3 separate regions of the Homo sapiens genome follow, and all the other regions are linked to region 3. Evidence: fine-mapped expression QTL. A gene starts in region 3. Each other region holds a variant in brackets. All regions are shown on one strand. Distances are from middle to middle.

Region 1 (2,760 bases), 200 kb after region 3:
CCAAATTCTGGCCAAAAGATCTGAGCTCATAAATATCTGAAAGCTGATACACATTAGAGTTTAAAAAGGAAGAAGATTAAGCATCATTACACAGTGGGTCTTACTGGGGTTTAGTGGCTGATACACATGGAGAGACATACAAAAAATAAAGTAGTATTAAGAGATGCTGGAAACTAATTTTAAATAAGTTTTAAATAAGATACATTAAAAGGTGTATTTTAATAATTCATTCTCAAAGTTGTTTAATGTCCTTACCCATATTACCCCAAAACATGGCTTAATCATGTGGCATTTCTTAGCAGTTCATTCTATGGATTTGCTATTAAATTATTTGCCTCTAGGTACATATTTCAAAGTTAGATATGTGTCTTTGAATATATTTAGAAATGTTCAGACTTGTGCAATTTTCTTTTAAATTTGTGTTCTCTCAAAGTTATTTTCTTTTTTGCTTTTGGGGGACATGGAAGAACCAAAATATCCTTTATATGCTTTTATTTTTTGAGTGGGTATAAGGAGATAGAAATCCTATTATTTGTTAATTTAAAAAATAAAAGGATTTTGACATATGCAGTGCATACTCTATGGTTGGACCACAAAATGATTCTGTGAAACTATTAGATTCTTCAAGGACTCACTTTGCTTAGAGGACAAGAATGGCAGGTGGAAGGAGTGCTCTTTGCCTTGCCTAGAGTGTAGTGTCTTTGATGGGGAGTAGCTGTTTAATGAGAGGCTTTAGGACACATCCAGTCAGATTCACACGCGCCTCTGGAACTCTTTGTTTTCAGGCTGCAGTTCCTTGGCTGTGTCAGCATCTTTATTGTCTGAGCTCAGAAACCCCTTAGTGCACCAAACCAGGAAGGGAAACTGGCAGCATGCAAATGACTGACAAAGGGATTGTAATATATTAGAGGTCTCTGATAGTCATTAAAAATTTTGAATGGAAAAAAATATGCCAGCAGTTAATAATATCAAATAAATTAAAACTACAAAGTCATTCCTGTAGCTGTAAAATTAGTTTCTTGAGATAGACGTTTTTGCTACTTGTGGTTTTTGATTTATTTATTTATTTATTGGGATGGAGTCTCTCACTCTGTCACCCAGGCTGGAGTGCAGTGGTGCAATCATGGCTCACTGCAACCTCTGCCTCCCCGATTAAAGCAATTCTCCTTCCTCAGCCTCCTGAGTAGCTGGGACTACAGGCATGTGCCACCATGCCTGGCTAATTTTTTTTGTCTTTTTAATAGAGACAGGGTTTCACCATGTTGGCCAGGCTCTCCAACTCCTGACCTCAAGTGATCCGCCCACTTCGGCCTCCCAGAGTGCTGGGATTACAGGCGTGAGCCACTGCGCCTGGGCTGATTTATTTTTAAATATTGGGGTACATAAGTATTCTTTATAAATTTGCTGCAGTGACCCACAATAATAGTGGCTTTAAATGATCATTTGTATTTCCACTTATGTAGCAGTCGAGAGGTGGGGAGTGCAGGATGATAATGCAGCTCAGCTTCATGAGGTCAGCCAGGGCTGGTATGATGCTCAGGGTCAGGCGCTGTATGGGTTTTAAAACATGTGTGCAACTTCTTTGCTGCTTTTCCCATTGTGCACTCTGGTTGAATCTGGTTGGGCACCTGGCTCTCTTGTAACCAGTAGAATACCACATGACTTTCATGGTTATGTCAGGAAAGGTGATGCAGCCTCTGCCTTGC[T/G]GCTGGGTCCGTTGCTTTTAGAACCTTGAATTACCACAAAGTAGTTTGACTACCTTGAAGCTGCCATTCAGTGAGAAAGTCAGGCCACATGTAGATGACACCTGTGGCTGTTCTCGCTGACTGCTTCAAATGAGGTTCCAGCCAATAGTTAACATCAGCCACCAGCCATGTGAGTGAGGATGCCTCCAGATGATTCCAGTCCCCAGTGGTCAAGCCACCCAGCTGTTGAGTGTTACTAGCTGAGGCCCAGACATCATGGAACAGCAGCAACCTGCCCCCCTTGTACCTGGTTTGAATTTCTGACCTACAGAATTCTTGAACATAAAAAAATGGTTGGTTTTCATAGTTGAATTCCAGTGTAGTTTGTCACATAGTAACTGGAACAGGGACCCAGGTTCCTTTTGTCACATTGCTTTGCCATCTAGGTTGTTACTCTTACATGTTTTTTTAGATGTTTCACCACCACATCTGCATTCCAGCCATCTGGATTGAAGAAGTACAAAAAAAGGCACTGTATTCCCCTTCAAGGGCCCTCCTCAGAAGTAGCACAGTCACTTCTGTTCTCATCTCAATGGCCACAGCTGAACTGGAACATAGCCACATCTAGCTCAAGGAAGGCTGGGAAATGTGTATTTATTCCTTGTGTATTTGCACCTAGCTAATAATTAGAGAATTTGTTTCTTTGAGAAAGAAGGATACAAGGATATGGGGAAAAGTTTCTGCTACAGTTGTACGCGCTTGATTATACCAAGTTCTTTACTTTGTGCTGTATTAATGGTAGTTGTTTCTTTCCTGGGAAATTTTCCATTTCAAAGAGCTCTTAGTAGTAGGTTTGTTGGAAAGCATTGTATTTGTGGGTAGGATTAGGTTGGCTAATATTGGTTCTATTTTGCACATGAAAATGAAACAATAGTAACTTTAAGAGAAGGAAGTTTACTTTTCTCTTACTTGAGAGAAGTCCAGCAGGAGGCAGTCCAGGACTGGCATGGTTATAGCCACCATCCACAGAGGCTCCTTACTTCTTGTTCCTGCAGACTTAGGCTGCTGCTTTGTG
Region 2 (2,760 bases), 190 kb after region 3:
TTTAGTAGAGACGGGGTTTCTCCATGTTGGTCAGGCTGGTCTCAAACTCCTGACCTCGGGCGATCCACCCACCTCGGCCTCCCAAAGTGTTGGGATTACAGGCATGAGCCACTGTGCCCAGCCCCTTTGTTTTCATTTTTAAAGGCAGCAGGTTTTACTGTAAGAGTCCCATTTTACAGGTGTAGCAAAAACTAGCCTGGGAAAAATCCTGGTTCATCATTTCAAACCCTTATTATGTTGCAGCACTCAGGTAAATTGACTGAGGATGCCAACTTTTAGTTTATCCAGTAGTGAACCTGAGCCCCCAACTCTATGTGGATGCATGGAATGAAATAGGGCATCCCACACTCTGCGTTTTATTGTATTAGCAGGGTTTGAAATTAGGAGAAATTATGATCTTTATAAATTAAATTCAGCTGATTTTCAGCTTAACTAAATTATTTTTATTGAGTCACTGCCTTTTACAACTTGAAGATAACATTAGGTCCAAAAATTATATCATACTTTATGGCGTAACACCAATACCATGAGGCCTGGGAGTCAAACAGACCAAATGTTGAAAACCTGGCTGTACCATTTTTAAGTGGGACTTTTCATGATTTGTCTAACTTCTCTGTACCCCAGTTTCTTTACCAAATTAATGGTTTCCTGGTTACTATTGCATCATTAAACTCTCTTATCTGCTGTTTAGGAGTCTTATCTGCTGTTTAGACACTGATTAAGTTATAACACCAGAATGGATGCTCTGAAGGGCAGATTCATATGCAATGAGAACATATAGTGAGGCTTGACTGAAGGAAGTCAGCAAAGGAACATCAATAAATAACTCTTTAGCCAAAATTTTGATGTAACTGTATTGATTTCCTTACACATGAGTTTTGATATTTTATTTCTACTTTTAGTATCCTTTTCGTATGTGTTAACTCCATGTTGGAAGTGGGCAGAGTATGGATAATAAAGTAATAAGAGAATAAGCTTTTTGAGGACAGGAATACATTTTTTCTTTCCTTCTTTGTGAAACGGGGTCTCAACTTGCAACGCCACTTGCCCAGGCTGGAGTGCAGTGGCGTGATCTTGGCTCACTGCAGCCTTGACCTCCCGGGCTCAGGTGATTCTCCTGCCTCAGCCTCCTGAGTAGCTGGGACTACAGGTCCCTGCCACTACACGTGGCTAGTTTTTGTGTTTTTTTGTAGAGATGGGGTTTTGCCATGTTGCCCAGGCTGGTCCTGAATTCCTGGACTCAATCCACCCGCTTTGGCCTCTCAAAGTGTGAGGATTACAGACATGAGCCACCGTGCCTGACCAATTTTTTTTTAATAGACTTTTAGAGCAGTTTAAGTTTACAGAAAAATTAGGCAGAAAGTACAGAGTTCCCGCATCCTTCCTCTTCTCACATCATTTGGGTTAATGCCTTGAAGTGTAATTGCTGAATTATATGGTAAGACTATGTTTAGCTTTGTAAGAAACAACTCAAAGTAGCTGTATTGTTTTGCATTTCCACCATCAGTTAAAGAGAGTTTCTGTTGCTCCACCTCCTTGCCAGC[G/A]TCTGGTGTTGTAATCTTTTTAGATTTTAGCCATTCCAATAGATGTGTATAGTGGTGTCTCACGTTGTTTTAATTTGCAATTCTCTAATATGGTGTTGAGCATCTTTTTATATGCTTATTTGCCAACTGTATATTTCCTTTAGTAAACTGTCTGTTCAGATATTTTGCCCACTTTTAAACTGAGTTGTTTGCTTTCTTATGATTGATTTTTTAAGATTTCTTTGTATATTTTGGATACTAGTTCTTTATCATATATGTGATTTGCAAATATATGTGTATATTGCGATGGAGTCTCACTCTGTCACCAGGCTGGAGTGCAGTGGTGTGATCTTGGCTCACTGCAACCTCTGACTCTCTGGTTCCACTATGCCCTGCTAAGTTTTGTATTTTTAGTAGAGATGGGGTTTCACCATGTTGGCCAGGATGGTCTTGATCTCCTGACCTCTTGATCCGCCTGCCTTGACCTCCCAGAGTGCTGGGATTACAGGTGTGAGCCACCGTGCCCAGCCATGATTTGCAAATATTTTCTCTTAGTCTGTGGCTTATCTTTTCATTTTCTTAACAGTGTCTTTTGCAGAGTGGAGGTTTTTAATTTTAATGAATCCAACCTATGTTTTTTCTTTTATGGATCATGATGTTGGTATTGTATTTAAAAATTCATCATCAAATCCAGGGTCATCTAGATTTTCTTTTATGTTATCTTCCTAAAGTTTTATAGTTTTGAATTTTACATTTAGTCTGTGATTCATTTTGAGTTAAATTTTGTGAAAGGTATAAGGTCTGTGCCTAAATTTGTATATTTTTTGCATATAGATGTCCAGTTGTTCCAGTACCATTTGTTGAAAAGATTATCCATTCTCTGTTGAATTGCTTTTTCTTTTTTGTCAAAGATCACTTTACTAAATTTGTGTGGGTCTATTTCTGGGCCCTCTGTTATGTTCCTTTGGTCGACTTGACTTTTCTTTTGCCAAAACCACACTGTTTCGACAACTGTAGCTTTATAATAGGTATTGAAATTGGGTAGTATTAGTCATTCAACTTGTTATTTTCTGGGATTGTGTTGTCTATTCTAGGTTGGAATAATTTTTTATACCTTAGAAATAAGCACTTGGTAAATATTCTGTGTTGAGAAACTTTTTCTCGGTACACAATGGTTACCTTTTTAAACACAAGTCAGATCTGTTATTCTTTTGCCTCAGCTCCCTCCAGTGGCTTC
Region 3 (2,760 bases):
GTTACTGGCTTTAAGGACATCAATGATTAAGCTTTCATGCAGAGCTGTACGGTTTTGTATAGTTGGAAAACAACACTGATTTTGAGATCACTACAAGCAAATAAAACTTTTATTCCTCCCAATTATTTACCTGCTTTTCAAATTTTTATAAATTTTTATGACACAATTTCTTCAGTCTATTAAATATTCCAAAAAAGAGGCTAATACAGTTGTTATAAGAAACTCCGCAAATGCAGTCAAGTGTTACCTTGTCACTATAATTAAAGTTTTCTTATGCGAGTAAATGAAACAAACAATCCAGCCCCACACAGGGAAAGCCAGCATTGCCTTGGGGGCAGCAGAACGCGGCACAGCACCGCCCGCCAAGGCCGCAAGATGCCGCAGAATGACTGCTGCAGCAGCCGCTTCCTGGCCAGGTGGCCGTGGCCGTCCGCAGAAAGGCACACTGCAGCGCTCTCGCTATACCTTCCGTGCTGGCATTGCATCAGTGTTAAATCCCCTGGCCACCAACTGCCATATACTTTTTGCTGGTTATGAAGAAACGTGGGGAGGGGACAAAGGGGAGACAGAGTGTGCCTGCAAGTGTGAGAGATCACTATTGCCTCACACTCCCTAAAAAATTTCTCCCCCAAATGTTTATAAGCCAAGTACCAACTTACTTCATCTGCCAGGTCCCTAAATCTGAAATCGCCTTGCCCTTCAAATGCACTAAATGAGTCAGGGTTTTAGGGCAAACCCAGGGATACAAGAAGATCGAAAGTGCCCAATTCTTAGCTGCGAGATAAGCACCAAGTTTGGGGTGGAAGAGTTCACCTCTGCCGACCAGAGCGTACTACCCCGGAGCGCTCCTAGTTTAGAGAGGCTTGGAGAGGAGTGGGCCTCCCGTTCCTGGAGTATCCCAATTCCCAGGGAAGGCCCTTCCCGGCGCTCGCGCTTCAGAGTGCGAGGAAACCCCCACAAGCAATAGCTCACCCGGCTGCATTCTTCAAAGCCCCAACCTCGGGGCGGGGCGCAGGGAGGTGGGAGGTGGAGGGTAGCACCGCCGGGAGGCTCCTGTCAGCGCCTCTCGGTTTTCCCCCTGGCTCCTTGGCGCCCCCTGACGACGGGCTCCGCAGCAATTTGGCCGAGGGAGGCTGGATAGGCGGAAGCTCCGGGTGTCCGGGAAGCTAGAGGCACCCGGCCAATGCACCCGCGGACGGCGCGGACTGGCGGGCGGCCCCGCGGGAGGGCGCTGGGCTCTCAGGCCCGGGTGCAGCCCGCGGACGCCGCCGAAACCGCCGCAGCCATGTCCGCGCGCCCGCGCTGCCGCAGCCTGGCCGTGATGTCATCAGCCGAGCCCCCGCCGCGGCGCCCCATTCCCGCCCCCCGCAGGCTGCCGCGGCTGCAGCCTGAGCGCCGCGTCCCCGCCCCGACCCACGTGCGCCCGGCTTCTGGGATGCTGAGGTCGGCGGCGGCCGCAGGACGATGCGCGGGGCCCGGGCGGCCGCGGCGGCGGCGCTGCTCCTCCCCACTCGCCGCGTCCCCGGCGGGGCTGCGCCCGGGGGCTGCGCACGGACGGGGGCGGGGGCGCCTGGGGAGGGAGGGGAGAGGATCCCAGCCGCCGAGTCGCAGCCTCGTCGCTGTCTGCTGAGTCATGGCAAGCGCTCCCCGCAGCCCTGGATCACTCGCGTAGCGCGGCTGGCGCGGGGTGCGCAGCCATTGGGCTGGGCGCGGGGCCGCGAGCGCCAGGCATGACGCGCTGAGCCGCGCTCACCCGTGCCCGCCGTCCCGGCGTGCGCCCAGCGCGGGTGCCTGTGCCGCCGCCCTCCAGCCCCGCCGTCGAGTCGCCCTCGCCTCGCCCGCACCATGATCGCCGCGGCTTTCCTCGTCTTGCTGAGACCCTACAGCATCCAATGTGCCCTCTTCCTCTTGTTGCTTCTGCTGGGCACCATCGCCACCATCGTCTTCTTCTGCTGCTGGCACCGCAAGCTCCAGAAAGGGAGGCATCCGATGAAATCGGTCTTCTCGGGTCGTTCAAGAAGCCGAGGTAAGACACGCCGCGACGGGTTTCTGCGGGCTACCAGGAACAATTAAGCCGATTTGGAGAGTGAAGCGCGGCTCGCTCCCTTCTCCTCGGCTGCCCCTAGCCCCATCATTGCCCACTCCCCAGGCTGAGTGCGTTTCTTTAACGCCCCTTGCCCTTTTTGCCGTCACCTCCGCCCTCCAGTCTCCCAGGTTTGAATAACCACGGCGATGCCGAGGGCAGGGAGGGGAGGAAAGAACTCAAATTTTTAGTCAGTTTGCTAAAGCCTTAAGGGTAATTTGAGCGTAGTCCGGGGCTGCGCCAGCCTCGCCTTCACGCATCCTTCGCTGGAGCGTAGGGGTAAGAAAGTAAGGCATGGAAACTTCGGGGCTCCCCAACTCCCCCAGAACTTTCATGCAAACTTCTCGCGGAGAAATCACGTAGAGACCGATGGCCCCAGGACTCCTCCTCCCTCCCCCAGGATGTCCCACCGAATTCCAGGAGTCTGCGATGTGCTTTCCCAACCCTGGTCTCCCAGGTAAGTCATGAGTCACTCGGTAGGTGAAGAACAAGGAGTTAAATGAAGTCTCATTTATCTCTTTTCTCCCCAGATGCTGTTTTGAGATCGCACCACTTTCGTTCTGAGGTAATTTATTTAGCGCGCACGCTCAAGGTCAGAAGAAGTTCTCTTTCCTGAGTACCAATATTAATTATATGCGTGTTAAGAAACCAGTAGGACACTGAATGACGAACATGCT

The links. PIP is the estimated chance that this variant, and not a neighbour inherited with it, causes the effect.
Region 1: its variant is the best candidate, but not a certain one, in a credible set for the expression of DST in whole blood (TOPMed, PIP 0.89).
Region 2: its variant is the best candidate, but not a certain one, in a credible set for the expression of DST in whole blood (INTERVAL, PIP 0.59).

Annotation. Positions count from the first base shown.
Region 1 is chr6:56,757,765-56,760,524 of GRCh38, reverse strand. The region is part of intron 4 of DST (dystonin); the gene reads left to right. Among named protein-coding and RNA genes, the nearest start is that of DST-AS1, 85 kb to the left of the region's middle. RefSeq lists an enhancer at 491-1,047 and a silencer at 2,729-2,760. The variant T/G (reference allele first, on the strand shown) is at 1,707.
Region 2 is chr6:56,768,082-56,770,841 of GRCh38, reverse strand. All of the region lies in intron 4 of DST (dystonin), which reads left to right. Among named protein-coding and RNA genes, the nearest start is that of DST-AS1, 75 kb to the left of the region's middle. The variant G/A (reference allele first, on the strand shown) is at 1,545.
Region 3 is chr6:56,953,673-56,956,432 of GRCh38, reverse strand. It overlaps DST (dystonin), which reads left to right and starts at 1,603. Exons shown (of 104, transcript NM_001374736.1): 1 at 1,603-2,026; 2 at 2,614-2,648. The coding sequence starts at 1,846. BEND6 (BEN domain containing 6) reads right to left here and starts at 1,326. Exons shown (of 7, transcript NM_152731.3): 1 at 973-1,326. RefSeq lists a silencer at 1,138-1,827 and an enhancer at 1,989-2,620.